Homo sapiens: one gene and its partners. The protein of the gene in region 1 purifies or fractionates together with the protein of each later gene. This does not show direct contact. Each region holds a gene or a part of one and is shown in the gene's direction. Other genes may lie near its edges. The genes, in order: S1PR2, ARL6IP5, PALM3, WDFY1, GAP43, ARVCF and PTER.

Region 1 (3,506 bases):
TTTTGTTTTGTTTTGTTTTGTTTTGAGACAGTCTCGCTCTGTCACCCAGGCTGGAGTGCAATGGCTGCGATCTTGGCTCACTGCAACCTCTGCCTCCCGGGTTCAAGCGATTCTCCTGCTTCAGTCTCCCAAGTAGCTGGGATCACAGGCGCACACCACCATGCCCGGCTAATTTTTTTTTTTTTTTTTTTTTTTTGAGTAGAGGGGGGTTTTACCATGTTGGCCAGGCTGGTCTTGAACTCATGATCTCAGGTGATAGGCCCGCCTCGGCTTCCCAGAGTGCTGGGATTACAGGCATGAGCCACTGCGCCCGGCCTAAACACATTTCTTATTTATCCAGGAAGCCACAGCAAATCTCTTGGTGAGCAGCAGAGGGGGCGGCTGCACTGCACAGCGTGCTCCCCAGGCCTGGAAAGGGACCTTGATTCTCACTTATGAACCCCAGGAGGGGCCCAGCAGGCCAGGGCAGCCTGGGGGTGTCTGGTCGGGGTGACCCAGAGGTCAGGCTGCGGTTCAAACTCCCCCTAGGGACGTCCACATAGCATTAACTCTATCCTCAGAAAGCCTGAGCTCCCGTCGCCTATAAAGGACCCCATCGGTAGGGCTGGCCGTAGAGCGCCCCCAACTGGACCAATCAGAGGCAGAAGATGGAAAGCCCGGGCCAATAGGCAAATTGCTCAGTGCCCTTGGATTGAAAATGAGCCAATCAGAGCATGGGCTGTTTCCGGCCCATCAGCTGTGTCTGATCCAGCCGCAGCCTGGGCCCAAGCCTGCCTGGGACTGGCTGCAGCGTGCAGAGGGCATCAAGATGCCCGGGGCTGCGTCCAGCAAGGGAACAAGGGGCCTCTGTGTGGCTATCTGGGAGGGGCAGCAGTCCCCGGGGACGTGCACAAGCCCTTGTCTGTTCCCAAACTAGGACGGATGTCCCTCCGCCCTGGGGGAGCAGCTGCCTCTATCCAGCCAGGGGCCAGGATGCCCCTTGGAGGGGGCGGCCAGGGACTGAGATGGCTGGGTGACTCCGGAAACCTCCATCACTCCTGGGCTCAGGAGAACTGGCCTAACCAGACTTTTCTGGAACGGTGCACACAGTCCTTGCCAGACGTGTTTCTAGGGACCTGAGGAGGACTCCCCCTACTCTCCCCCCTCCCTCCCATTTAGCTAAGGCTGGAACTTCCTCTCCCTTCATGAAAGGCATACACTGCACTGGCGCCTCTGACAACCCCTAACCCTACCCCCAAGCTGGGGGAAGGCCATGGTGTCTGCCTCTCATCCTCTCTGCCGAGGAGCGCCTCTCCCCGCCCCCTCCCACCACGGCTCAGTTTTCCTTGGTGGGTGGCGATGGGGGGGGATGGGAGGGGGTAGAGGGAGGGATGGAAGAGGGTGGAGGGGAGGGATGGGAGGGGGTTGGGGGGGTGACTCAGGTTTTCATGGAACAAATGCCTTACCCCCTCCCGGCGGGGCTGCACACCCCTTCACGGCTCACATGACTTCAGCAAAGCTGCCCCATCCTCCCAGCCAGGACCTCCCAGATGGGGTCTCTCCCATCCTGACTCCCCCTACATCCCGCCTTCCTCACACCGGATGTGACTGCAGAGTGAGGACTCCACCCTGTTTGTTCCAGGGGCCTCACATCTGGATTTCATCCTGGCTGGGGAGGGGGTGCCAGCGCCCTGCCCATCCCGGCAGGACCTTCTGTCCCAGGGCAGAGCTAGATGGTGCTGATGAGAACAGGCTGTTGGAGATCTCGTCTGGTTGGCTTACATCCCTTCCCTTCCCAAAGGACTGGAGGAAAGAGGGGAGCTAATAACATTTGGCAGTATTTGTTGAGTGCTTACTATGAGCTAAACGTGCCTCATGCGTCATTTAAAAGGATTTTCCCATCACCCCCATGAAGTGGGCTTTCTTCTCTCTATTGCACAGATAAGGAGGTTCAGGCTGAGACAGCGTCTAGGGACTTGCCCAGTGTTTCAGAGGTGGAATGGGAGCAAATTCTGGATTGCCTTCAAGGTCTGTGTCCTTGAAGATGGTGTGACCTCTGGGATGTTTGAATCTCAGGGCCGCCCTGGTGTCTCCCCAAGACCTTATCTTGGGAGCACCCGTGGCCTCAAGGCTTAGACCCAGCCTGAAATCCAGCGTTAGTGGGTGGTAATGAATGAGCAGGGCACGGAGCTATCAGTGGTGAGACTCTCCCTGACCCAGGTCAGCATGAGGGCGCAGGCGCCTGTGTGTTCCAGAAAAGAGACAAACCCTCCAGGACCTGCCTAGGGCTTGCTCTCTGGGTAGGTGGGCAAGGTTTCTGGAAGTCCACATTATATTTTTCATGCCATTTGGGGGAGCTTCTTTCCCTTTGAAAGCGTGTAGCTACTCAGGAGACTGAGGCAGGAGGATCACTTGAGCCCAGGAGTAGAGACAACTGTGAGCTATGATCATGCCACTGCACTCCAGCCTGGGTGACAGAGCAAGACCCTATCTCTAGAAAATAATAATGAAAATTAAAAGAGGCAAGATGTCATGGTTCATACCTGTAATCTCATTGCTTTGAGAGGCCGAGGAGAATTGCTTGAAGCCAGGAGTTCAGGACCAGCCTGGACAACACAGTGAGACCCAATCTCTAAAAAACAAAAAAACTAGCCAGGCGGCTGGGCCCGGTGGCTCACACTGGTAATCCCAGCGCTTTGAGAGGCCGAGGCAGGCGGATCATGAGGTCAGAAGTTCGAGACCATGCTGGCCAACATGGTGAAACCCTGTCTCTACTAAAAATAAAAAAAAAATTAGCTGGGCCTGGTGGCAGGTGCCCGTAATCCCAGCTACTCAGGAAGCTGAGGCAGGAGAATCACTTGAACCCAGGAGGAGGAGGTTGCAGTGAGCCAAGACCGTGCCGCAGCACTCCAGCCTTGGCAACAGAGGGAGACTCCATCTCAAAAAAAAAAAAAAAAAAAAAAAATTAGCCAGGCGTGGTGGCATGTGCTTGTAGCTGAAGCTGAGGTGGGAGGCTGAGGTGGGAGGATCACTTGAGCCCAGGAGTTCAAGGCTGCAGGGAGCTATGATTGCGCCACTGCACTCCAGCCTGAATGACAGAGCAAGACCTTGTCTTTAAAATATAGATAAATAAAATAAATAAGAAAGAGCGTAGCCTAGGGCTTATAGAGGCCGCAGAGCCAGTCTCTCTGGCCCTGCCGCTGGTTAAATTTGAGACTTTAGGAAAGTGAATTAATCTCTCTGGGTTTCCCGTCTGTAAGTGGGGATGATGATGATTCTGAATTCATGTGGCCCTTCCTCGAAGAGTAACAGAGCAGGAAATTGAATCTCAGCCCATCCGAGGCCAGAGCCCAGGTAGCAGCCACAGCTCTGACCTATTGTCTGTCTGTCTGTCTGTCTTCTCTGCAGTTCTGAAAGCCCCATGGCCCCAGCAGGCCTCTGAGCCCCACCATGGGCAGCTTGTACTCGGAGTACCTGAACCCCAACAAGGTCCAGGAACACTATAATTATACCAAGGAGACGCTGGA
Region 2 (2,334 bases), on another chromosome or scaffold:
CCGGATGAAGAAGCGCTACCCCACGACGTTCGTTATGGTGGTCATGTTGGCGAGCTATTTCCTTATCTCCATGTTTGGAGGAGTCATGGTCTTTGTGTTTGGCATTACTTTTCCTTTGCTGTGTAAGTGAACTTGAGTTTTTTCTTCCATCATCAAAAAAATGTAGAAGCAATTATCCAACGGGAATTCCATAACCCATTTCTTATATGTGTTGGCATGTCAGCAAAAGTGTCAGAATTTTCTAAAACAGCTTTCTACTTGTTATCCAACTAGACCCAGATAACACAGAACTGAGGTCAAGAACTATGAGGTCAAGGCCTTATAGTTCATTAATTCCACAAATATTTGTTGGGGCATCTGCTATGTGTCATACATTCTTTTGTTGTTGTTGAGATGGGGTCTACTCTGTCACCCACGCTGTGGTGTTATCTCGGCTTACTGCAACCTCTGCCTCCTGAATAGCTGGGACCACAGGTGCACACCCAGCTAATTTTTTGTGTTTTGGGTAGAGACCGGGGTTTTACTATGTTGCCCAGGCTGATCTCGGACTCCCAAGCTTGAGTGATCTAGCTTCCTTGGACTCCCCAAGTGCTGGGATTACAGGCGTGAGCCACTTCGCCCAGCTGTGTGCCATACATTCTTATGGGGACACAACAGTAAACAGAACAAAGACAAATCCCAGGTCATACAGCAGGAATGTGGCATAACCTGCACTAGACTCCAGATTTGTCTAATAAGAGAGTCTATTCTCAATTTTTAAGTGCCATTCCTATTGTCCTGACACAGGAATGAATGTATTTATTATTTGGAAGTAGACTATTTATTCTCCACTTGCTCAGGAGATCATAACTAGTGTTAAAAGTTTGGTAAGTCTATAGGAATAATTGGCTCAGAATATAGGTACTAAATACTCAGATTCTGGTGAAGAGATCTAGATATTCTCTAAGTTTTACATGAATTATTTACTAAGACTCCAAACACTTGAAGCCTGAAATAGACAAGAAATAAAATCCCAGCCTAATCAGCAGAAATCTGATTAAAATTCTAGTATATTAAGTGACAGGCACATCCCTTTAACTTTCAATAACATTTGACATGTGCACTTATTCCACTAAATGAAATTATTTGCTTGTTTAGGGCTTTGTTAGATTAAGTCCAGAATATTTATGGATACATCCCATACCCTATTGGATAAAATATCTGAGCCAACAAATTCACACATTTTTGGAATTTTCTTCAGGTTTTCTGTAGGTGCTTAACGCTTAGTATTTCAATGATACTGTTTAATCAAACAGCTTGCTAATTTTAATACCTTTCCACATCAGAACCTGAGACAGGCCAGTGTAACGAAATGTATCAGAGGTAGACAGTTAAGAGTCCTGATTTCTATTCTTAGACCTGCTGGAAACCAGCATGTGATTTGGACCAGTCATCCTATATGGGCTGTAGTTCACTCATCTCTAAAGTAAGGAGATTAGATAAGTGATTCCCAAACGGATAATTGTGACAAGCATTCAGGATACTTTTTAAAAATATACATTTCCCAGCCACATCTTTATTTTGTGGGTCAACAGTGGTACCCAAGGATGTTAGGTTTTTAGAAAGCTCGTCAACTATTTCTAACGGGTGGTCTAGGTTGAGATCCTCCAGATGAATCCACATCAGGGTTTTTCAAAATAAGGGTCCAAGATCCACCTACATCAGAATCATCTGGAGTGATTATTAAAATAATGAATTCTGGAGCCTTCCCTCAGTTGTAACAGTCTGAATTTGGGGTGATGGAGACCAGGAATTTGCCTATTTAACAGGCTCTCCAGGTGATTTGAATGTACATGGAAGTTGTAAAACCACTGGTATAGATCATATGGAGAGAGGGTTACCTGTTTAAAATACAGATTCCCAGGCCTGTCTCTTTAAGGCTCAGGTGGAGGAGGTCCAGGAAAGGGGATAGGGAATCTGTGGTAAAATAATCAAGCAAGTTTGGGGAACGGTAGGCTATAGAAACTCTGTAAAGCCCTTAGATTTTTACATCTAGAATTCTATACCCAACACTTTGGGTAAAGCCTCCGGGAGGCACTTTAAAAGTGGACTTTACTCACGTGCTCCTGCAGGGAACAAGATACAGATAATCCCGAATCGAGCAAGAGTTCTTTTCTGGAAAGCCTCGGGTAAGTTGATTTTTAAGTAGGATGGAATCCCGTTGATTCACTCTGAATTTCAGGACATTTAAGTAGCATCTGCAAGGTGATGATATCAGTGTGTGAAGGAAAGGGTGTGGCTTCCAGATAATGGTCCTTCCTGTTGAATACAGCATTTTCCTTTAATGCAGAAAAA
Region 3 (3,111 bases), 3.8 Mb from region 1:
GAGATCACACCACTGCACTCCAGCCTGGGCAACAGAGTGAGACTCTGTCTCAAACAAAAATTAGCTGGGCATGCTGGCAGGTGCCTGTAGTCCCAGCTACTAGGGAGGCTGAGACAGGGAAATCGTTTGAAACCAGGAGGCGAACGTTGCAGTGAGCCGAGATTACGCCACTGCACTCCAGCCTGGGCGACACAGCAAGACTCCATCTCAAAAAAAAAATTAATTTGTATTTATGTTGATTGGAATGTAAGTGCCAAAAACAAAAGGCTTAAGTGTCCCTTGTGCATGGTAACCAGTAACTGACAAAGTAGGCCCCTAATACAGATTGGCTATGGGAATGCAGTATTGTTTAAGCACCTACTGTGTGCAAGGCCCTGGAACATAGGGCAATAAGATAGATGAGGAAGGCAGAGGTACAATGTGGAGTTTGATCCTGAAGGTAATAGAGAGCCACTGAGGGTATTTAGGGGTGGTGGGGTGGGAGCCTAGCATGCAGGGAGGCTGGAGGTGGGGATGAGGGCCAGCCTGACCTTGTCTCCGCCATCTCTGCAGGGTCACCGTCCTCTCTCCCAGTCCATTGTCGAGGCAGGTTCTGTAGGTAAGTGTGGGAGCCCCTAGGTCTGGGGGTCAGGTCACCCCAGAGCCTGGGTGTGAGAGGGTGACTCAAGGGGAGTGTGGATGGCAGTCCTTTTGTTCCATCTTAACCCTGTCTTCCCTTTTGTCCTCTCCCCTCCACCTCTGACTCCCCCAGGCCAGACTGATCTGAACAAGAGAGCCTCCCTGCCGGCTGGACTAGTGGGCACGCCTCCAGAGTCCCCCTCTGAGCCCAGGGAGGATGTCTTGGGGTTTCTGCCAGGCCCGAGGCAGGTCCCCGGGGCAGCAGGAGACTCCTCAGAAGCCAATGGCCCATGCCCCAGCCCCATCCCCACTCCAGAGCAGGGGCTAAGTCAGAGGGCAGTGCCATCCGAAGGGCGGGTGGGTGAGGCCAAAGGAGGGGGCGTGGTGAGTGTGGTGTGGGAAGGGCTGAGGGCCACAGAGGACTGTGCCACAGGGGCCACGGGCCCCGAGCTGGAGGCTAAGGTGGAGGAAGTGGTGCTGGAAGCCATCGGAGACAGGAAGGGAGCTGGTAGCCTGGAGCTCCCGGCCTGGGTGAAGGAGGACAGGGGCATCGTGGAGGTGGTCTGGGAGGGGGTGGGTGGCAGTGATGCAGAGGCCATGGGGGAGATAGGCAGGGTCCCTGAGGTCGTGCAGACTAGCTCGCCTAGGCTCCAGGAGAGATTAGAGGCAGCAGCTTCCATAGAAGGGGAAGATGTGCCCCAGGGCAGCCCTGAGGGTGATGGGCAGGGAGGCTCTGGAGGAGAGGAGGGATCCTTCATTTGGGTGGAGAGAGTGACCCTCAGTGAAGAGTGGGAGGAGCTGCTGGTGGAGGGGTTGGAAGGGCCCGAGGTGGCAGGGAGGGAGAGAGGAGATGAAAGCCCGCTGGGGGCCGAGGGGGCCAAGACGGGAGGAGGCGAGGAGACCTGGGAGGCAGAGAAGAGAAAAGCGGAAGAATCCATGGGAATAGGAAGTGAGGAAAAGCCAGGGACAGGGAGGGATGAAGCGGAGATGTCACCAGTGGTAGAGAGGAAAGGAGGAGAGAAGAAGTTGGAGCTGGAGAGCAGAGGAAGTGCAGAAAAGCTGGGAACAGAGAGGGAAGGAGGTGAGGAACCACTGGGCATAGAGAGAAAAGTTGAGGGACATTTGAGGGCAGAGAAGGAAGGAGATGAGGAAAAGCGAGGGGCAGAGGAGGAGGAGGTAGAAGAACCATTGGGAGTAGAGAAGAAAGGAGGTGAGGAAGAGCCAGAGGCAACCAAAGAACCACTGGAGGCAGAGAGAAAGGGAGGGGAGGAGACACTGGAGGCAGAGAAAAGGGGAGGTGAGGAATCATTGGAGACAGAGAAGACCCAAGGGACGGAGGGAGATCTGAATCTAGAACAAGGGTCTAGGGAAGGAAGTGAATCCCAGGCAGAGGAGATGAATGAGGCAGGGCCTCCCCTTGAGGCTAACACGGAGACAAGGCCAGAGAAGGAAGGACCCCAGCCCCAGGAGAAGCCAGTAGGAGCCCTGGAGGAGGAAGGAGTGAAGCCCCAAACCGCTGCTGAGGGCCAAGGCCCCTTGGGGGATGCCACACCTCTTCTGGCAGAGACCCCAGCCCCAGAGCAGCCCGCCGAATGCCAGCCACTGCTTCAGGGGGAGGGGCCCAGCGCCAACCCCAGTGCCCACCCTGTGCCCACCTACGCGCCTGCCCGGCAGCCTGAGCCATCTGCCCCCACCGAGGGTGAAGAGGCAAGTGGCCCTAAGCAAAAGACGTGCCAGTGTTGTGCGGTCATGTGAACCCATGCCCCTCCACCCCATGTCCAGCTCCTCTCACAGCTACCTCGGCCTCTTGGCACCCAGAAGAGGGTCCCAGGCACAGACAGGGACCACAGGACTGGCCATGGCACCTGGGAGCCAGCTAGCCTGCACGTCCACCTAAACCTGGGCTTCCAGACCCCTTGCCCACTGCCTGTAACCCTGGCCTCCTTCTGCGATGAAGCCTTTATACTTGAAAATAAAATGTGAAAGCACTCAAGACGGCTTGAATGTGTGTGTAGTCAGCACAGAATCACAGCGTCATCTCCTGGTGGGAAATTTGAGGCTTAACCCTGCTACAGTCAAAGATTATGAATCAGTGAGAGTATAGATTGAGCTGCTGTAACAAAAAGACCTCAAAGCTACAGTAGCTATAAAAATATAAAAGTTTATTTTTCTTAGTGGTTCTATCCATGCAGTCATTCAGGGATTCAGGTTCCTTTTCATTTCTTGCTCCACCTTCCCCTTGGGTATGACCAAAGCTGGATCATAGGCATGTGTTATGTTCCAGCTCATAGGCAAGGAAAGGATGTGGGGGAGCCCCCACCCAGACCCCGTGTTGGCATATGTCACTTCTGACCACATTCTGTTGTCAAGAACTCAGTCCATGCTGCACCTGGATGCAAGGGAGCTGAGATGGTGCCCAAATGCAGTGTTTTTTCTTTTCTTTTTTTTTTTTTTTTGCTTTTTATTAGTTTGTTTATTTTTGAGATAAGGTCT
Region 4 (2,250 bases), on another chromosome or scaffold:
ATTCTATATTCCTGATGGGCTTTTCTAAAAAAAAAATTGAATTTATACTAAAACATTATTATGATTTAATTTTTATGTGTAAAGACACTACCTATATGCTTTATTCACATTTTAGTGAACTACATTGTTTTATCTTTCTGAAAATCTTTTTGTTTGAGACAAGGTCTCGCTCTGTCACCCAGACTGTAGTGTAGTGGTGTGACCTCGGTTCAGTGCAACCTCTGCCTTCTGGGCTCAGGTGATCCTCCCACCTCAGCCTCTTGAGTGGCTGGGACCACAGGCATGTGCCACCACACCAGGCTAATTTCTGTATTTTTTTTGGTAGAGACAAGGTTTTGCCACGTTGGCCAGGCTGGTCTTGAACTCCTGGGCTCAAGTGCTACACCCGCCTCGGTCTCCCAAAGTGTTGGGATTACAGGCGTGAGCCACCGTGCCCAGCCACCTGGCCTCTTTCTATAAATCTTAAGGAGGTGTTATGAAAGAGGAGAATGAGAAAATTCATTAATTTGACACCTTTTCAGGTTTAACAGTCGTTTGTTTGTCTGTGTTGACTCTTGCCGTTAGACCTGGTTATCACTGCTGCCTTTTCTGCGTTTCTTCCTTCCTTGTAGATCTGGGACATGACACCTGTGGTGGGCTGCAGTCTGGCGACTGGGTTTTCTCCGCACTGATCTGAGAGCTGGGCGGCGTCCACACCTAAGAACAGCAGCTCCACCAAATGAAGTCCCTCTCACGCAGCTCCACAGCGCTGTCTCGTGAATGGACAGTAGCCACTTACAAACAAATCAACATTTTTAAAAAGAAAATGTAAAGGTGTGTTTTGGGGCATTTGTGGAACTTACCCATGGGGACTAATATGGAAAAGGTCTGTCCATAGTGGTTCCCTGAAGACTGGAATTACTTCAGCAAAACTTCCCCATGAACAGCTAATGTGTAGTGAAAGAATGAGCTAGCAAATGAGTTTTAGCGGGGACAAAAAATCAAACAAAAAAGTGAATGCTTAGAACCTTCTCAAAGCAGTCACAAGTACAGACACTTCACTTAGCCTAGGGGGCCTTCCAGGGTTCTTGTGGCTGTTGTCAGAGCAGGAGCTGGGGGAGGGAAGACTTGTTCTCTCTTTCTTGAGGGGTGGCATTAGGAACTTACGAAACCAGAGACCTTTCCCTATGACTTGGCAGTATGTGAATATCCTCTACACTTAGTTATTGATAAACTTCTTAAAGAGATCTGTTATTTTCAGGTAGTGCCATAATCTGCACTTAGCATTGGCTTGCTTCAGTTGTTTCTCTTCCCAGCCAGTATGCCACAGGTGAACTTTCGGGGTTGTCATTAAGTAAGTTGTGAAATTTCTGTAATAACAAAGGCAGTCCGCATTCTTCCCTTTCCCCCAAATTCCTAGGGCAAAACTTTTTTATGGTGCTGTTAACATGGGAGTCACACAAGCCGCCTGACTTTTTCTCATTGCCATTAGTAATGACTGATGGAAAACCCAGCCACCACTGTGATGCGAAATGATCAGTCTGTTGCCTGAAACAGCCCAGTCCTCTTAACTGAAACAGCATTCTACTTCTTGTTCCAAGATGAGCCTCTGCAATATTCTGGCAATTTAATATACCCCCTACAAAAGCACTCCACAGCTTTTACACTATTTTGACTTTGAGTTATAACTAGTATTATTCATGTTTTCATAAAAAGAAGTTAGTGACCCAGAGCTATAATCATCCATCAAGTCTTCCACAATAATTCCCAACTCATAAATTGCTTTCCTAACAACTAGCAAAAGCTATTGTTCATAATGGCATTTCTAAAGCTTTTGGGCACTGTGTACCAGGATGAGGAAGAGAAGAAATGAGGAGCCTGTCTTTTAATATTCCAGTATTTGTGTGTTTGATTTTTTTTGACAACAGTACATATATCTATTTCTCTAGGGATATGGAAGTAAGTGGAGAAGGGCCTACCTTTTTAAAGGACAAATATAAAAATAGCAACAGTATCTTTGCTAATCTTACTAATAGATATTGATTAAAAAAAAAAAACCTCAGTACTGCATCACTGTGTTGGGATCATACCAGGACAATAGGGTCATTCCATATGATAAAACTAAAGGACTAAATTTGTTTTATAATGATGTCTTAGAGGGACTGAAAGGTTTAAGGAGGCGATCAAACTAAAATGTCTTAATGGCTGTGTGACACACGTAAGGAAAGGAAAGGGGGTCACGCACATCATGTACTGGAATGATCTGCATTA
Region 5 (2,243 bases), on another chromosome or scaffold:
TTTTGGCCAAGCTGGTCCCGAACTCCTGACCTCAGGTGATCCACCCATCTCAGCCTCCCAAAGTGCTGGGATTACAGGTGTGAGCCACCGCACCCAGCCTGAATTTTATTGTCTTTTAAAGGTATATTATGAAAGGCTTTAAGGAGAGCAAGGATTTTGCTTTTTTTTTTTTTTTTCTCAGTACCTAGAAGAATGCCTGGCACAGTGCAGGTGTCCAGTAACAACTTATTGAACAAATAAATTAATAAATATTTACATTTAAAATACTTTGAAGCATTTGAGAAAATGAATATATATTGAGGCTCTCTCAATAGAGCTTCATAATTTCCTGTCATAATAAACAGATTTGTGCCAAATTTCGTCTTTTGTCCTAGGACCAGGCAATGGATGACAAGAGAAAGTGGGAGAATTTGGGAGGATTTAGCTTGATTGTATTCCAACAAGGGAACAGAAAGTGTAGCTGCATCTCAGAACCATCTGAATGTTCAAGTTTCTGTTTCTGCATTTTTGAGTTTTATTCCCTTTATTCAACAAACATGCAATTCTCACCTTTCCCAGTCTACTTCCCTTTTTCTCTCATTTCCTAATCTCCCTCTAAGCATACATAATAGCTCCCATGTCTTTATTTTGGAAGGAGAGATTTGAAGTCTTCTCTTGTTCCTATAACTACTATCTTTCTATATGTTTCTGGGTTGTGTAAATCAATATTATGTTTATTTTGCAGTTTGAAAAGGGCACTAAAAACATTGCTTCTTGGAACTGATAAGGATGGTAAACTACCTTGGGCATACTTGTAATATCCAAAGGTTTGAGCAGGGTTAGGGAACCAAGCAAACTCTCCAAAAGAATTCCTAATTGTTTTAGAAGGACTTCACTGAAATAAATCTGGAATCTTTCTTCTGGTAGAAAATTAAATACCTCATTAGCACACCAAAATTTTTGTAATTCCTGAGGAATACTGCTGATGCATAGTGTATTATAATGATCAGAATTGAGTTAGTTTCATGCAAAACTTGGATAGGTGCACTGTGTTCAACAGGTAATTACAGTCACTTTGGAAAGCTATAGCCTTAAAAAAATCTTATAAGTAGTAGTAGGTAGCATCACTAGAATAGCTATATTTTATGAATAGCTTATAGTGAGTTATGAACCCTATAAAATAAGTCAGACTTTAAAACCCTGGTCAAAAGTGAGTATTATAAGGTAAAATTACCCATCGTAGCTGCTTACTTTATTTACCAGACTAGTCTAGTTAGATTCTAAAAACCTAACCTATTTTCAAAAAATAAGCATTTCTGCTACTGAAGAGCTCTAAAAGAATGTTTTTTGATAGGTATTTCAGAGAAGAAATTCCATAAATTTGTTTAATAATGGTGGGTATAAATGTTCAGCTTCATCTGAATGTAAATATGTAGCTGGCTGATTTAAAAGAGACATACATTTTGATGAGCTCTTTTAATGGTCTCCTTAATGACCCCATTTCTCTAATCTCAACATCTATGTACAGTAAAACTATTTTATTTAGTATTCCTAGTTTAATCTCCTCAAAGCATAGCTGTATTATGTTCCTTGCTCAAGTGCTTTCAAGCTATGTCTGTTATCTTCTAATTAAACACAAATTTGTTAGCCTAACAAAATTACATGGACTCCAGTTTACCTTTCCAAGAATAATCAGCACCTAGTAGTTGTTAAGAGGAGGACAAGCAATAACAATAGCTCCATTTTAAGACAGAGGCATCGTCAATATCAGGGATTGAGGAAAAAAAAAAACAGTTAATACAGTAGGCCTGGGACTGCTATCCTTAGAAAGGCTTGTTTGTAAAGTTGACCATTGGCTGGCATCTGGGATCTTGGATTTTGAGAAGATTCTCATCATTCCTTAACTGATAAGAGTGGTTCCAGGTGCCTAAAATCATAGTACAAACAATGTGGTTTATGCTGAACATCTATTTTTCTTCTGGGAGTCTGAATTTTGTACCTGCTTGCTGGAGGGTGCCTACATGACCTATTACCAGTGCAAACTCACTCAGTTAAACTTCCCTAATAGATGACATCTTCCATGTGTTATGGTAATTTATTGCTGAAAGAATTAAGCACATCCTGGGTGACTCCATGGGGAGAAGACTCTTAGAAATTTGTTTGGTTTCCTCCAAACTTTGCCCATGCGCAACTTTCAGCTTTGCTTATTTTGCTTTGTGTTTTTTCGCTGCAATAAATTTTAGTTATGAAGCAGACTGCATGCT
Region 6 (3,506 bases), on another chromosome or scaffold:
GGGAGCCAGGCGGGCATGCTCACATCCAGGTTCAGAGGCTGGGCCAGACGAACACCTGCAGGGACAGGGCAGTGCCTATTGGGCTGTATGCTGGGATCTGGCTTGAGAGAGAGGTCTGTCCTGGTGGGGCCTAGCCAGTTGGAAGAGCCTGCATGTCACCAGGGTGGAGGGCTCCAGCCGCAGGAGGGCTGTGGGGGAGTATTACAGGCAGAGCAGGGCTGATGCAGATACCCCAGCGGGGAGTGTGCTTGGAGTGTGTTGGAGCAGAAAGCCCAGCAGGGCAGGAGTAGAGGGAGCATGGGGCATGAGGACTGGCGAGGGTGTGATGAAATGTCACTGGGTGGGTACAGGGGAGATCGAGGTAGTACCCAAGCCAGGCTGAAGCCCCAGTTTGGAGACAGGCAAGCTTGGAAGGCTGTTTTGACCCCTCATTTCTGGAGCACTGGGCAGAGCAGCAGGACGGCGCCTCAGTTGCCCGGGAACTTGGAGTGGTTGCCAGGAAGAGTGCCTCCTGTTGCTAGGGCAGCTGCCCTGGTTGCACTGCATCAGTTGACTTACAGAGGGTGGGCTCTATTGTCAGTGGGGGAGGGTGGGCCCTGTTGCTAGGGGGCGTAGCTCTCTGCACAGCTTCAGTTACTGGTGAAAGCAGGTCCTCTTGCTAGGGGTGTGGCCTTGGTTATACAACTCTCAGTTACTGGCCAATGCTGGTCTTGTTGCCAGGGAGGGTGGGCCCTATTACCAGGGGCGTGGCCAGGATGCATAGCTTCAGGGACCTACCGGGAAATGCGGGTCTTGTTGCTAGGAGAGCGTTCCTGGTTGACACCTCCCTCCCCACCCCAGGCCTCCTGGATGCTCCTGCTGCCAGGCAGGTCCAACTGATTTGAGCCTCAGTTTGTTCCTCTGTGAAATGGGAACGCTTTTCCCCTTGGGTGACTATATGTTGATAGTAAATATTACGTGACTCATCCACACCCATCCCTGGCCCCAGCTCACCCACGCCCTGGGAGCTCTGAAGCGGGAAGCGGGAGGGGTATGATGGATGAGAGCAGATTCTGGGTGACCGTGGGTGGCGGTTGCCCTGCACCTAGGCTTTGAGCTGCTGTACCAGCCCGAGGTGGTACGTCTCTACCTCTCCCTCCTCACGGAGAGCCGGAACTTCAACACCCTGGAGGCTGCCGCCGGCGCTCTGCAGAACCTCAGTGCCGGCAACTGGATGGTGAGGGACCAGGTCGGGCAGGGTGGGCAAGTCCTGAGAGAGGGAATCCCAGGCACCTCACTGGTGCAGCTCCTGCCTCGGCTGGCGGGGAAAGGAGGGGCCACACCACCACCCCAGGATCCAAGAGGTGTATGGGCTGCGGGCAATGCGTGCACCCTGGACGGTGGGAAAACCTCGGTGGAGGTGCCGTTGAGCTTTTGGGGTAGGGCTTTGTCGGGCACGGGAGCAGGAAGGTCCAGCTGGAGAGAGCGGTCAGCGTCTGGAGGTGGGAGAGTGCCTGGCATGTATGTCTGAGCAACCCTCTCCCCGCCTCCGCAGTGGGCCACGTACATCCGCGCCACAGTGCGCAAAGAGCGCGGGCTGCCGGTGCTTGTGGAACTGCTGCAGTCTGAGACCGACAAGGTGGTGCGCGCCGTCGCCATCGCTCTGCGCAACCTCTCGCTGGACCGGCGCAACAAAGACCTCATCGGTGAGGACGCCTGCAAAGCCCACGCCTGGGCACCGAACTGTGCCTGCAGCTTTGGGGTCCCATCGGAGGGGCTTGGAGGATGAGTGGTTTGGGAGTCCAGGCCCCGGCCCTCTCGCTTGGGCGCTGTCCCAACTGGAGGTAGCTCCAGTCCCCCCGGCCCTGTCTCTGAAGCTCAGCGCCCTGCTCACAGGGGCTCCTGTGACCGCCTGCACACAGGCGGTCTCCAGGGGCTCTCCTGGCAGTGCCCCTCGCCCTCGCGGGATCCCTGCTCCTTCCTGGAGAGGTGGGGCAGAGGTGTGTTCTGACACCTAGTCCTGCCCCTCAGGGAGCTACGCCATGGCTGAGCTTGTGCGGAATGTGCGCAATGCACAGGCTCCGCCGCGACCGGGGGCCTGCCTGGAGGAAGACACCGTGGTGGCGGTGCTCAACACCATCCACGAAATCGTGTCCGACAGCCTGGATAACGCGCGCTCGCTCCTGCAGGCACGCGGGGTGCCAGCGTTGGTGGCTCTCGTGGCCTCCAGGTGTGGAGGGGCGGGGTCGGTGGCTTGGGGAGCCGCGGAGGTGGGGGAGGGGCCACCACTGACCCCGCCCCCGGCCCCACAGCCAATCGGTACGCGAAGCGAAGGCGGCGTCACACGTGCTGCAGACAGTGTGGAGCTACAAGGAGCTGCGTGGTACCTTGCAGAAAGATGGTTGGACCAAGGCGCGCTTCCAGGTGCGGCTTCCCTGGCCTTCCTTCCATTCCCTGCTCACTTTGCCTTATTCCCACTCCATGTGCTTCACCCACCCTGTGTCTGTGTTTTATGTCTCAGTCAGCTGCTGCTACTGCCAAGGGGCCTAAGGGAGCACTGAGTCCTGGGGGCTTCGATGACAGCACGCTGCCACTGGTGGACAAGAGCCTTGGTGAGTGGTGGAGCTTAGGGAGCCTAGAGGGTGGCGACCCCAGCTGCCCCAGTTGCCTGACCCTTGGGTGAAGGTGAAGGAGGAGTCAGGCCTCCCACTGAGACGGCTTCCATAGGCCACTTTCCCTGCCCTCTGCCTCTTGGCTACTCCCTTCCCACAGCATCCGCGCTGTTGTCAAGCTGGGGTGAGGCTGCCAGCTGGCAGAGGTTGGGCACCTTAGTGACAGAGAGCCTCTAGGGCTACCTGGGCCAGCCCTGTGTGGGCTTCTCTGCCCCGATCCCCCCTGGCTGCCACATGCAGCCCGTCTCCTCCTCCTGCCTTGCAGAGGGCGAGAAAACTGGCAGCCGGGATGTGATCCCCATGGATGCGCTGGGCCCAGGTGAGTGCAGATGCAGTGTGGTTGGTTTTCTGTGCCGGGAGGGGACCAAGGCCTGAAGTGGGCCTGCTGGTTTTATGGGGTGTAGATGGTGCTGGGTGGAGGAGAGATATTTGGTTTAGGGGTGCTTAGAGGGTGAGGTACAGGGCAGCTAGAGAGGGATTAGTGCTCAGCCAGGGGCTCTGACCCACAAGTGGAGGGGAGTCTGGAGAGTTGGCAGGGTGTTGGTGAGAGCTGGCACCAGCCTGGATCTCCAGGACAGGGTGGGTGGGGGCTGTCTCCCAAAGCCCCTGTCCCACGAGTCCCCTGTGTCTGGGCTGAGAGGGAGATCTGCTCCTACAGGGCCTCCCTCAGAGCGCCCCTCATGCCCCACCTTACCCCATCTACAGACGGATACTCCACGGTGGACCGGAGGGAGCGGAGGCCACGGGGCGCCAGCTCTGCAGGAGAGGCCTCTGAGAAGGAACCCTTGAAAGTAAGTGGTCATGTGGCTGTGGGCAGGTCCCCGGTGAGGCCCCGTGTCTAGGGGTTGCTGGAGA
Region 7 (3,506 bases), on another chromosome or scaffold:
TTCCAAGTGATGACTACACATCTTTGGAGAATCTCCTCAGTTCAGGAACTTCTTTTTAACTAACATTACTTGGAGGAGAGCTTAATGCTCGTGACTTTAAACATTTATGTAATTAGGTAAAAAGGGAAGCAACATTATTAAATGACTTGGATAGAGTTCATCAAGCAGTTAAGAAAAAAATGTACATAATCAAGCGTACCTTGCAGTCTGAATGACAAACATCCAAATATTTGCTGTAACAACTCGCACATATTTTTACCAAAAATTTCCTCTCCGAATCAGAAACTTACTATGATGAGTCCATGTACTTACGTGTACCATCAAAAAGGGCCAGAGGATCGCTAGAGTATGCTGTGGTCCTATCTGCTCTTTCTATAAAGTGGTATCTTGTGCTCATCTTGCTTAAATATGTTGTGTCTTACAATTATCACGATACTATCAACTGAAAACAGAAAGGTCTGTGAGAAAAGATGTGAGCCTAGGAAGCTAAAAACTTTTTCTTTTTTTTTTTTTTTTGAGATGGAGTCTCGCTCTGTTGCCATGCTGGAGTGCATTGGCGCGATCTCGGCTGACTGCAACCTCTGCCTCCCGAATTCAAGCGATTCTCCTGCCTCAGCCTCCCGAGTAGCTGGAACTATAGGCACGTGCCACCATGCCCAGCTAACTTTTATATTTTTAGTATATTTTCAGCATGTTGGCCGGGATGGTCTCAATCTCTTGACTCGTGATCTACCCGCCTCGGCCTCCCAAAGTGCTGGGATTACAGGCATGAACCACCGCACCCGGCCTCTTTTCTTTTTTTTGAGACGGTGTCTTGCTCTGTCACCCAGGCCGGAGTGTGGTGGTGATCATAGCTCACTTGAGCTTCTGGGCTAAAGCGATCCTCCTGAGTAGCTGGATTACAGGTGCTCAATACCTCAATACCACGCCTGGTTTTTTTTTTTTGGACAGAGGACCTACAGGGAACTTTATTCTCGTGCTTTTGTCTTCACTGGGGCACTACCCCTCGGGAAGACCAGGTTGGCTCCTGGCACAGGGATGCACCTGGTTAATTTAAAAACATTTTTTTTTAGAGATGGGGTCTCACTCTGTTGCCCAGGTTCGTCTCCAACTCCAAGGCTCAAGTGATCCTCCCACCTCGGCCTCCCAAAATGCTAGGATCACAGGCATGAGCCACCACAACCAGCTAGCAAAGCTCTTATATTCAAAGAAATATTGGGGAATGTGAAGGCACAGAAGGCCTCAGTTTGACATTATCTGTCCATATCTATAATGCATACTATCTTTGCTTCTGACGAGCTTTTACAATGTTCCCTCAGAATAGAATAATAGGGTTTTTTTTAATCCTTAAAAGAATCTTACGTAGTAAATTGGTAGTCAGAAATATTAGAGGGTTGTTACATGGGTATGTAAGAGTATATAAGTAAAACTTGGGGTTTTGAATGGGCTGTAAAACACTTTTCTCTTTAAAACTGTTTTAAGTGGAAATGTATTATTGAAGCTGTGTGATGGATGAGTAGGGGTTCACTACACTGCACTCTCTACATTAGCGAATTTTTGAGAATGTCCATATTAAAAAGTTTAAATAAAAGTTATTTTTTAAAAAGGAGAATAAATGAGTGAAATATATGGCCTCCTGTGAGGCAAAATTCGATACCTATATAAGGGACACATTAAATGAGGTATGCATGCCTATGTTAGACAATATTAAGTCGAGTATGGTTTTAACTACCAATCGCTCTGTAGAAAAGTGTTGTTGAGGCTGAGCGTGGTGGCTCCTGCCTGTAATCACAGCTACTCAGGAGGCTGAGGCAGGAGAATGGCTTGAACCTGGGAGGCGAAGGTTGCAGTGAGCCTAGATCGTGCCACTGCACTCTAGCCTGGGCGACAGAGTGAGTGAGATTCCATCTCAAAAACAAAAAAGAAAATTATTATTGAAACCCTTATCCAAGAGTAGCTGGAAGAGTATCTTTCCTAGTTTTGGCCTAGATTATTTGAGACATTTTTTATTTATGCTTCTCTGGCATATGACATGTCTATTACTTCCATGAGTCAGTGCCTTTCTCCCAGTTAGCATTTCCCAGGCTCTCAGGCTGCAGTGTCTCCAAGCTCAGTCTTTGATTTCAGAGCCTATTAGCCATGGCACAAATCCGGTGAACACAGAAACTTACAAAGAGGCCACTTGTCTCCGATGCACTGATGCACCATGCGTGGCTAGTGCCTTCTGCCCAATGTCTTCTCTGAAAACATTCCCTGCTGTTGTAGGAAGGATCCTACAGGCTGACACCAAGGAAGCCATGCTGTCTCCTGGGTGGTCTTCAGAGGACACTGCCTCCTGAGGGGCTGACATGGCCAAAGCCCATCCAAGTCCTCTCAGCCTCCATATCTAGGATGAGAAGTTGTCCTGGGCCTGTGAGTCTCGCTCACATTTCTGCATAAGTGTCAGGCCTGGCATAGATGATTCCCTTTTGCTTTGGTGCTGCTTTGAGCTTGCCCCGTTATCATTTAGTAAAGTGCATCTTCAAGAGTGTTTCTCTTTCTCCTGTGTGCCAGATATTTCGGAGCAGCTCAGTGCATAAGTGGTAAAGAATTTGCTATTTCCAATACTGACATTACTGAGACTTTGACTTGCAACCATAGTTGATCTTGAATGTTCGGGGGTGGGGAGAAGGCTCTTACAAATAGAGGTGCAATGCACGCCACCCCACCCCCAACATTTTTTTTTTTTTTTGAGATAGAGTTGGTCTGTCGCCCAGGCTGGAGTGTAGCAGTGTGATCTTGGCTAACTGCAACCTCCACCACCTCCCGGGTTCAAGTGATTCTTGTGCCTCAGCTTCTTGAGTAGCTGAGATTAAAGGCGTGCACCACAATGCCTGGCTAATTTTTTGTATTTTTACTAGAGACGTGTTTCCACCATGTTGATCAGGCTGGTGCAGTGCCCCTTGTTGATGATCATTCCTCTCAAGTGTTATCTTTTCACTCTTTGCCTGTTAGTGTAGTTAGATAGAGAGATCAAACTATTTCAAGTTAGAAGTTCAAGTTTAAAATGTTCTCCATGAAGACTCTACATAGTCCCATTTGTGTATTGAATTTAATTGTTAGATTTGTTATATATATTAAAGAACATATGCAGTTTCTTAGCATTAGAAACATTTCATGGACTGTTGCTACTCGTTATTGTTGCCATGGTGAGGTCAAAACGCTTAATTTCTTAATTCTTTCTTTTCTATTTTGATAGACCACCAAGATTGTAAGACATTTTTGTTTGTTTGTTTGTTTGTTTTGTTTTGTTTTGTTTTTTTGAGACAGGGTCTCCCTCTGTTGACTCGGCGAGAGTGCATTGGTGCAATCTCGGCTTGCTGCAACCTCTGCCTCCTGGGTTCAAGCAATTCTCATGCCTCAGCCTCCCAAGGAGCTGGGATTACAGGCGTGCGCTACCATGCCCAGCTAATTTTTGTATTTTTAGTAGAGACAGGGTTTTGCCATGTTAGCCAGGTTGGTCTTGA

The links.
Region 2: the proteins of S1PR2 (region 1) and ARL6IP5 purify together in Homo sapiens (affinity purification with mass spectrometry; 2 studies listed by BioGRID and IntAct, with this or other methods). This does not show direct contact.
Region 3: the proteins of S1PR2 (region 1) and PALM3 purify together in Homo sapiens (affinity purification with mass spectrometry; 2 studies listed by BioGRID and IntAct, with this or other methods). This does not show direct contact.
Region 4: the proteins of S1PR2 (region 1) and WDFY1 purify together in Homo sapiens (affinity purification with mass spectrometry; 2 studies listed by BioGRID and IntAct, with this or other methods). This does not show direct contact.
Region 5: the proteins of S1PR2 (region 1) and GAP43 purify together in Homo sapiens (affinity purification with mass spectrometry; 2 studies listed by BioGRID and IntAct, with this or other methods). This does not show direct contact.
Region 6: the proteins of S1PR2 (region 1) and ARVCF purify together in Homo sapiens (affinity purification with mass spectrometry; 2 studies listed by BioGRID and IntAct, with this or other methods). This does not show direct contact.
Region 7: the proteins of S1PR2 (region 1) and PTER purify together in Homo sapiens (affinity purification with mass spectrometry; 2 studies listed by BioGRID and IntAct, with this or other methods). This does not show direct contact.

What each region holds. Positions count from the first base shown.
Region 1 is NC_000019.10:10,224,829-10,228,334, reverse strand, and holds part of S1PR2 (sphingosine 1-phosphate receptor 2), read left to right. Parts: intron 1-3,387; 5' UTR 3,388-3,429; coding exon 3,430-3,506. UniProt on the Homo sapiens protein: Receptor for the lysosphingolipid sphingosine 1-phosphate (S1P). S1P is a bioactive lysophospholipid that elicits diverse physiological effects on most types of cells and tissues.
Region 2 is NC_000003.12:69,101,935-69,104,268, forward strand, and holds part of ARL6IP5 (PRA1 family protein 3), read left to right. Parts: coding exon 1-122; intron 123-2,334. UniProt on the Homo sapiens protein: Regulates intracellular concentrations of taurine and glutamate. Negatively modulates SLC1A1/EAAC1 glutamate transport activity by decreasing its affinity for glutamate in a PKC activity-dependent manner.
Region 3 is NC_000019.10:14,052,867-14,055,977, reverse strand, and holds the end of PALM3 (paralemmin-3), read left to right. Parts: intron 1-552; coding exon 553-598; intron 599-751; coding exon 752-2,373; 3' UTR 2,374-2,611; downstream 2,612-3,111. UniProt on the Homo sapiens protein: ATP-binding protein, which may act as a adapter in the Toll-like receptor (TLR) signaling.
Region 4 is NC_000002.12:223,877,092-223,879,341, reverse strand, and holds part of WDFY1 (WD repeat and FYVE domain-containing protein 1), read left to right. Parts: intron 1-611; coding exon 612-671; 3' UTR 672-2,250. UniProt on the Homo sapiens protein: Positively regulates TLR3- and TLR4-mediated signaling pathways by bridging the interaction between TLR3 or TLR4 and TICAM1.
Region 5 is NC_000003.12:115,717,510-115,719,752, forward strand, and holds part of GAP43 (neuromodulin), read left to right. Parts: intron 1-2,243. UniProt on the Homo sapiens protein: This protein is associated with nerve growth. It is a major component of the motile 'growth cones' that form the tips of elongating axons. Plays a role in axonal and dendritic filopodia induction.
Region 6 is NC_000022.11:19,971,822-19,975,327, reverse strand, and holds part of ARVCF (splicing regulator ARVCF), read left to right. Parts: intron 1-1,088; coding exon 1,089-1,216; intron 1,217-1,534; coding exon 1,535-1,685; intron 1,686-2,010; coding exon 2,011-2,209; intron 2,210-2,291; coding exon 2,292-2,403; intron 2,404-2,500; coding exon 2,501-2,591; intron 2,592-2,916; coding exon 2,917-2,970; intron 2,971-3,356; coding exon 3,357-3,442; intron 3,443-3,506. UniProt on the Homo sapiens protein: Contributes to the regulation of alternative splicing of pre-mRNAs.
Region 7 is NC_000010.11:16,443,505-16,447,010, forward strand, and holds part of PTER (N-acetyltaurine hydrolase), read left to right. Parts: intron 1-3,506. UniProt on the Homo sapiens protein: N-acetyltaurine hydrolase that regulates feeding by catalyzing the hydrolysis of N-acetyltaurine into taurine and acetate. N-acetyltaurine has anorexigenic and anti-obesity effects that are dependent on GFRAL receptor and GDF15.